Homo sapiens: one gene and its partner. The protein of the gene in region 1 interacts with the protein of each later gene in a pairwise test. Each region holds a gene or a part of one and is shown on either strand. Other genes may lie near its edges. The genes, in order: TMEM130 and GRM2.

Region 1 (4,349 bases):
CATAAGGAGCACGCAACCTTGATCCCTCACGTGAGCAGTTCACAGTAGGGTTTGCGCTCCTATGAGAATCTAATGCCCTGCTGATCTGCCAGGAGGTGGAGCTCAGCGTGGCTCACAGGCCCTGCTCACCTCCTGCTGTGCAGCCAGTTCCTAACAGGCTATGGACTGGTACTGGCGGCCAGGGGCTTGGAGACCCCTGCTTTAGACGCCTTGATGTCAATGCACTGGGTGGTGCAGTGATGGTCCATCCGTGCTCCACGGGCCAGAGAGGAGGTCAAAGGCCCTCACTGTGTGGGAGGATCCCTCGCCCAGGTAGCCGTAGCAAAGCGGAAGCATAGCTGGGACCAGAACCCACCGGGCTTCCAGCGTTTAAGGCCAGCCAGGCCCCTCCAGCTTCTAGGAGAGCCCAGCCCTGCTCCTCTAAGGCAAATGGCAGTAACTGTGTAGGCTGGTCACCCCTCACCGCAGTAGCCTGACTCCCACAAGGCCCTCAGTGACAAAGAAGTTGCCCTGGGCCCAGATACGAGCAGGAGCCCCATCTTAACAGCAGCTGTGAGAGGGTAAACCGGGGGATGACATCAAGCCCACGGCAGGGGCCGGGTGCTCAGGCCCCTCTATCAAGAAGGGGCAAGAGGCTGGGCACAGTGGCTTACACCTGTAATCCCAACATTTTGGGAGGCTGAGGCGAGAGGATCACTTGAGGCCAGGAGTTTGAGACCAACCTGGCCAACATGGTGAAACCCCGTCTCTACTAAAAATACAAAAATTAGCCAGGCCTGGTGGCGGGCACCTGTAATCCCATCTTACTAGGGAGGCTGAGGCAGGAGAATCGCTTGAACCCGGGAGGCGGAGGTTGCAGTGAGCCGAGATCGCGCCATTCTGGGACAGAGCGAGACTCTGTCTCAAGATTAAAAAAAAAAAAAAAAGAAAAGAGGAAGCAGCAGCAGCAGCAGCAGCAAGAGGAATTTCGAGGCCTTTCGCCCAACGCCTGGCGCACCTTAAGCTCTCAACAGTTCTTGAATGAGGAGTAGCATCTCGGAGCCACGAGCGTGCAGAGAGAAGGCACCTGGAGGAGAGCCCCAAGGGACCTGCAGGCGGCTTGCAGCGCAGCGCACGCCCCTGGGGACGCTGAGTCAGAGCCGGCGGCATCGGATCCAGGGCGGGGAGGGGCTCGGGGGAAGGGAAAAATGCGGGTGCGGGGGGCGTGGTTTCGGGTAGTGGAGGGGAAGGATGCGGCCGGGGGTGGATTTGGGGTGGGGAGGGATGCGGGGAGGAGCCAGGGCGCAGGAAGGGAGCTCTGGAACCCCTAGAGGGGAAGCAAGCTGGGAGGGGCGATCGTGGACTCCAGGAGGGCAGGGGGCGCGGCCGTGGGAAGAGACCCGGAGAGGGAGGACGCGGCCGTGGAGAGGGACGCGGGAGCAAGGGGCGGCGGGAGGAGGAGGAGGGCGCGCGGCGCGGCTGACGTGGGCCGGGGTCGCGCAGCGGGCTGTGGGCGGCGGCGGCGGCGCGCAGCGACAGAGCGTCCCCCGGCGAGGACGAGCGAGCACGGCGCCCGCACCTCCCCGCACCGCCCGCGCTGCGCGCCCGGAGGAGCGACCGCCGCAGTTCTCGAGCTCCAGCTGCATTCCCTCCGCGTCCGCCCCACGCTTCTCCCGCTCCGGGCCCCGCAATGGCCCAGGCAGTGTGGTCGCGCCTCGGCCGCATCCTCTGGCTTGCCTGCCTCCTGCCCTGGGCCCCGGCAGGGGTGGCCGCAGGTAAGGCGCTGGGCAATCCGGCCTCCCTGCAGCCGCAGCCCGCCCGGGGCCTGGAACCGTCTCAGCGGGCGAGTGGGCCCGGGAGCAGGGATTGCGGAGGTGGCACCGTGCGCCCTGCGCGCATCTCCCTCCTCGGCTGAGGCCACTGCAGCGCCCTTTCCCCTCTCCTTTCATCCTTGTTCCCCAAAGTCGCCTGGGCACTGGAGGGGGCTCCCCGCACCCCCTGGATTCCTGCTTCCACCCCCCCAGGCTGGCCCTGCCCTGGAAACCGCGCGGGGGTGGCCGGCGCATCCGTCGATGCCTGGGGACCATGCACCCGCTAAGGGAGGGGAGGACGAGGCAGGGAGGCGGGGATGCGCCAGGGTCCGTCATCGCGCCACAATTCCCCAGTCCCCCAGGGAGCACGGGATGGGCAACGTTTTTGCCTTAAAATGTCGCCTCATCTAGAGGGGTTTCCCACCGTGTTGGTGCTGGCTTTGGGGAGATGCGAATTTAGAGCCCAGGAGGCCAGGCTGCCATTTCCTCTCTGGTGGTGATTTCCAAAATGGACCCGGAGCTGACAGGTTCCTGGGGTGTGTGTGTGGGTGGGGGAGTGGGGGAAGCAGGGTTGTGTGTCTACTGCCCCCACTTCCCCACCGCCAGAAAGCCAGCACCCACCTCTCTGCCACATTTTGGGAACCATAAAAGGACCCAGATTTAAGACTATTCGAGGGACAGATGGGACGTGGGCAGCTAAGAAGGTTGAATACTATCCACCACTTTTCACCCCCTCCCCCCTCATAAAAGAGCGGTGGAGAGAGAGAGCAAGGGATCTAATGAAAATTTGTGAAAGAAAAACCATGAGGTCAAAGAAAACCTGCAACTCAGGGATGAATTAGACGAATTTTATGGGAATTGCACTTGGACAAGATTACCTATTTCCTCCTGGAAATACAGGAAAGGGGTCTCTTGTCCATCAGGTTGATTTGTGTCAGAGATTTTCAATGTGTCCTAAATTGCAAAAGAAAAAGAAAATAATAACAAAAGTGAATTAATTATTTGGAAATCATGTGTGGTTCCCATTCTAGCCAATTGCACCCTTGATGTGGTCAAAATCACAGTGGCTAAGAGTGGAGTTGGGAAACATCTTCTCCCTCACCCGTCGGGGAGACTTTTCTACCCTTCCCCTTTCTGGAGTCCATGAATCAGGGATTTGTAAGTCAGAAGTCCATGTACTGGACTATTAATTAATTCTGGGTTGTGTTATCCAGACTTTAGAGGTACTCTTTGGAAGTGTTTTGGGTAGTCTGCATATTCTGTGTGAAAGGACTGGTGTAGCCATTTTCTAGAATGTTCAGGGCTGCACATGCTGTGTTGCTGGAAAAGGTAGGTGTTTCTTCCATGGGCCAAGCTTTGGGGTGAGTGCCCCATCTCTTTTTGCTTTTGCCCCTTGAGCTCTGGGTGACTTGGGGGGCCCTTGGAGTCCCCTAAACCTCTGCCTTGGCTGCTCCATACCCCAACTCCATGTCACATGGACTCCCAAACATGGAAAGATGAATTTGTTTGTTTGAGATGCAGTCTTGCTCTGTCACCCAGGCTGGAGTGCAGTGGCACAATCTTGGCTCACTGCAACCTCCACCTTCTGGGTTCAAGAAATTCTCCTGCCTCAGCCTCCCAAGTAGCTGGGATTACAGGCGCCTGCCACCACACCTGGCTAATTTTTGTATTTTTAGTAGAGATAGGGCTTCGCCATGTTGGCCAGGCTGGTCTCGAACCTCTGGCCTCAGGTGATCCACCTGTCTCAGCCTCCCAAAGTGCTGGGATTACAGGTGTGAGCCACCACGCCGGCCTGGAAAGATGAATTTGGTGGGTAGAGCACCAGGCCCTGTGATTGGTTCCTTCAGCCACATTTGGCAAAGGCTTCCTGGTCCATTTCCACCCTGGATGTCCTGGCCATCCCTGAGACCCCTGAGGAACAGGGGCAGCATCACCCAGGGGCTGTGACACACCTGATTTTGAAAAAACAGACTGAGAAAAAGTGTCCTTGGAGCTGGCAGGTGGTGGTGGGGGAGTCGGCGGGCTCCCATGAGCTGGGCCAGTGTCTGCAGCAATGTCTGCAGCAGACACAGCCCCTCCCTGCCCCCCATCCCCCCTCCCAGTCCCAGCTGGCTGCCCTCCTGATCCATTCCCCTGGCAACCGATCTGCGTGATAACATGCGTCTGTCTCACTGCAGATGCTGTTTGGCCATTAGCATGCAGCCGAATGTCCCTGCTACCTGCCAGCCTCGCTCAGGCCCACGCTTCTCAGCTGGGGTGGCAGGGAGGGGATGGGGAGGAGAGGGGTGCCAGGAGTTAGGGGGATAAGGGAGGAGGTGGTCTCTCATCCATGCACCTCTCTGTCCACAGCCTGGCCAAATGCTGCCTCCCAGCCAAAGTGGGGAGGGAGAGCAAAGCCCAACCAGGGTAGTACAGACTGGTTGGGTGGCCTCAGGCAGCAGCAGTGACCCATGCGGGCTTCAGGTCCCTCAATATCATATACCCACTCTGTTTGCGTGGAAAAGCTCCCATCACAGCTTCTGGATTTCCCTCTTTGGGGTTAAGACACTGCAGGTCCCC
Region 2 (3,804 bases), on another chromosome or scaffold:
CTGGCCTGGTCCCGCCATTTTGAGGGTCTCTGGCTCCTCCTTGGGCCTTGCCCACTGTCTTCTGTCTCCTTATCTTGCCAAAGGTGGAGACCAGGAGACCTCAAGCCCATTCTCAGGCAGCACCAAGAGTTAGAATCAGTCTGGCTTGAGGGTGAGCATCAGGATGACGCTCTATATTCACGGAAAATGTCTTTCTGTCTTTCTTTTTTCTTTTCTTTCTTTTTTCTTTCTTTCTTTCTTTCTTTCTTTTCTTAGATGGGGTCTCACTATATTTTGTAGGCTGGAGTGCAGTGGTTATTCACAGGCACAATACAGCCTCCAACTCCTGGGCTCAAGCGATCCTTCTGCCTCAGTCTCCAGAGTAGCTAGGATGACAGGCATGTGGCACTGCTCCTAGCTTCAGGGAAAATTTCTATTCCTAATCTTGATTTTCCACTCAAGGTGACCTGAAAGTCTCCTGAAATCAAAAGTTATTTTAATAAGAGTGCCAGCTTTAAGAGAAATGACTGCTGCAGATCATCACTATGCTTCAGGAAGAATCACCGTGGGAACAGTGGGAGACAAAGCTTGGAAGCCCTGGCCCAGGGTTAAGATGAAGAGTACTTCCAATAGAACTGACATTCAGAGTTAGCTACAATCAGTGTAGGGGTTAGGGTTGGAATCTGGGGTCCGATTTGGTTGATGTTAGAGCAAGGCTAAATTCAGCATGTTTGGCTTGGGTGGAATTTATGGTAGGGCTAGAGTTGGATTTTGAGAACTTTTAGGCTGAGTAGAAAGAGTAGGTGCTTGAGGGGACCTGGGTTTGAATCTAGGCTGCACTATTCACTCATGGGGCCTTAAGCATGTCTTCTGCTTTCTTGAACCCTGATTTCTCACTGGGGCCAGGGATGGCTGTAAATCCTGGCTAGAGCCTGGCTGGGAGATGTGAGGTTTACAGGGGATGAAGTGGGGGTGGAGAGAGGAAGTGATTTTCCAGCCACTGACCACATTCTGGTGAATGGCAGTGGTTGCAGGTGACCAGTGAGGTTGGGATTCAGTTTGCACCAGGATGACTGTTAGGACTAGGGGTGCTGGAGCTGGGGTTGTTGTTAGGATTAGTGGGGACAGGATTGGAGCTGAGACTGGGTTTAGCCTTAGCATTGAGTTTGGGGAGAGGGCTGTAGTGTATGTTTCGATGAAGTTGGGATTTGGAGCCTGGGTTGGAAAGTGTTGGATAGTACTAAAGTTGAATTTGGGGAGTCATGGTTGGGGATTGATGTGGGCATTAGGTTTTTGGAGATGTCTGGGCTTTAAGGCTGGGATTACATTTGGCATTTAGGGTTGGGGTTTGATGTTGGAGTTTAGGAGTAAGACTTTGTTGTCATCTCTCATTTAGAAAAATGATTGGGGTCAAGGCAGGATTTAGTATTGGGTTAAGGATTGGAAGGGCTAATGGTGGTCTTAGCTCTGGCATTTGGGTTCCATGTTAGGGTGAATGTTGAGGTCACATCAGGGTAACACACTAGTCCAACCTTCTCTTCCTTCCCTCCCCCATCCTAGCCCCCTTTCGCCCAGCTGACACCCACAATGAGGTCCGCTTTGACCGCTTTGGTGATGGTATTGGCCGCTACAACATCTTCACCTATCTGCGTGCAGGCAGTGGGCGCTATCGCTACCAGAAGGTGGGCTACTGGGCAGAAGGCTTGACTCTGGACACCAGCCTCATCCCATGGGCCTCACCCTCAGCCGGCCCCCTGCCCGCCTCTCGCTGCAGTGAGCCCTGCCTCCAGAATGAGGTGAAGAGTGTGCAGCCGGGCGAAGTCTGCTGCTGGCTCTGCATTCCGTGCCAGCCCTATGAGTACCGATTGGACGAATTCACTTGCGCTGATTGTGGCCTGGGCTACTGGCCCAATGCCAGCCTGACTGGCTGCTTCGAACTGCCCCAGGAGTACATCCGCTGGGGCGATGCCTGGGCTGTGGGACCTGTCACCATCGCCTGCCTCGGTGCCCTGGCCACCCTCTTTGTGCTGGGTGTCTTTGTGCGGCACAATGCCACACCAGTGGTCAAGGCCTCAGGTCGGGAGCTCTGCTACATCCTGCTGGGTGGTGTCTTCCTCTGCTACTGCATGACCTTCATCTTCATTGCCAAGCCATCCACGGCAGTGTGTACCTTACGGCGTCTTGGTTTGGGCACTGCCTTCTCTGTCTGCTACTCAGCCCTGCTCACCAAGACCAACCGCATTGCACGCATCTTCGGTGGGGCCCGGGAGGGTGCCCAGCGGCCACGCTTCATCAGTCCTGCCTCACAGGTGGCCATCTGCCTGGCACTTATCTCGGGCCAGCTGCTCATCGTGGTCGCCTGGCTGGTGGTGGAGGCACCGGGCACAGGCAAGGAGACAGCCCCCGAACGGCGGGAGGTGGTGACACTGCGCTGCAACCACCGCGATGCAAGTATGTTGGGCTCGCTGGCCTACAATGTGCTCCTCATCGCGCTCTGCACGCTTTATGCCTTCAAGACTCGCAAGTGCCCCGAAAACTTCAACGAGGCCAAGTTCATTGGCTTCACCATGTACACCACCTGCATCATCTGGCTGGCATTCCTGCCCATCTTCTATGTCACCTCCAGTGACTACCGGGTGAGCTACCTGCCACAGAGGTCGGGGGAGATGGGACACCAGACCCTCTGTTTCCTGGTATCTTATTTAATCTACTGGTAGCTCTGGGGTTCCAAGAGGATAATGCCCACTCAGGGGACCACAGCTTGTGTGGATCCCAAGGGGAAGGTGGGAGGGCTGAATAGGACCTAGGGAAATGGCCAGGGAGGTGGGGAACTCGAGTTAGAGAGAGCTGAGATTTCAGGACTTGAATGTCATCCCCTATCCTGGAAGGTGATGGGGGTGCAGAAATATGTTCAAATGGACAGGGTTCTGCCCTGCTCCACTGAGGGGTCATCTGCAGAAGGGGTTGAGAGATGAAGCCAGGGAAGGCAGGAAAGATGAAGCAAGGTGGGTAGGGGAGGAGATCCAGGGTATAGAGTTGAGAAAAGCTAAAGCAGGTGAAAATTGTTCCCCAGTTGGTGGCTTCTGAGCAAATTTGGTTCCAACTGGCACTGTGTCTCAATGGGTCTCCCCAGCTCCAAGGGGCAATGGCTGCTTCAGATAGGGTGGTCAGGGAAGCCCTCTCTGAGGAGGTGACAGATGAGCTATGTTCTGAGTAAGAAGATTATCTTGGTTAATCTTCATAACTTGAGTAAGCTCCATGGCTCTCCCGTTTTACAGATGAAGAAACAGAGACTCAGGGAGGTTCAATCCCTTGCCCAAGGTCACTCAGCTTGGGAGTGCAGAGCAGGGTCTGAACTGCAGAAAAATTGAGGCGAAAGCCCCGGCAAAGGCCCCTTCCCCAGGACAGAGGTGTGGTGGCACAGTGCTGGGGGCCAGGGACCGCTGGGCTTGGCTGCTCTGCTTGCACCTGCTGGGCCACCTGCTTGGGTGGTAGAGGCCAGGGCTGGGGAGGGATTCTGCTCTGACTCAGCCTGCATTTGCATATGATTTGCATTTGCATGCCAATCACAGGCAGCTAAGGACTCACCTGAGACACACACCGTACCCACACATGCATGCACACACACACACACACTTGTACACACAGACATAGCCACATGCATGCATGCACACACACATATCCCACATACACACACTCGCTGGCACACACACATATATCTTCCTGACAAATGAATCCATACCCATGCACCCTACACTCACGCACACATACACTCACGCAGACACCTGCAGAAATTCACCACCCCACATACATGCACTTACACAG

The links.
Region 2: the proteins of TMEM130 (region 1) and GRM2 interact in binary tests that used the Homo sapiens proteins (3 or more experiments, as listed by UniProt).

Annotation. Positions count from the first base shown.
Region 1 is NC_000007.14:98,867,182-98,871,530, reverse strand, and holds the start of TMEM130 (transmembrane protein 130 isoform b precursor), read left to right. Parts: upstream 1-1,516; 5' UTR 1,517-1,669; coding exon 1,670-1,754; intron 1,755-4,349.
Region 2 is NC_000003.12:51,713,523-51,717,326, forward strand, and holds part of GRM2 (metabotropic glutamate receptor 2 isoform a precursor), read left to right. Parts: intron 1-441; coding exon of another isoform or gene 442-461; exon of another isoform or gene 462-502; coding exon of another isoform or gene 503-599; exon of another isoform or gene 600-1,539; coding exon 1,540-2,615; intron 2,616-3,804. UniProt on the Homo sapiens protein: Dimeric G protein-coupled receptor which is activated by the excitatory neurotransmitter L-glutamate. Plays critical roles in modulating synaptic transmission and neuronal excitability.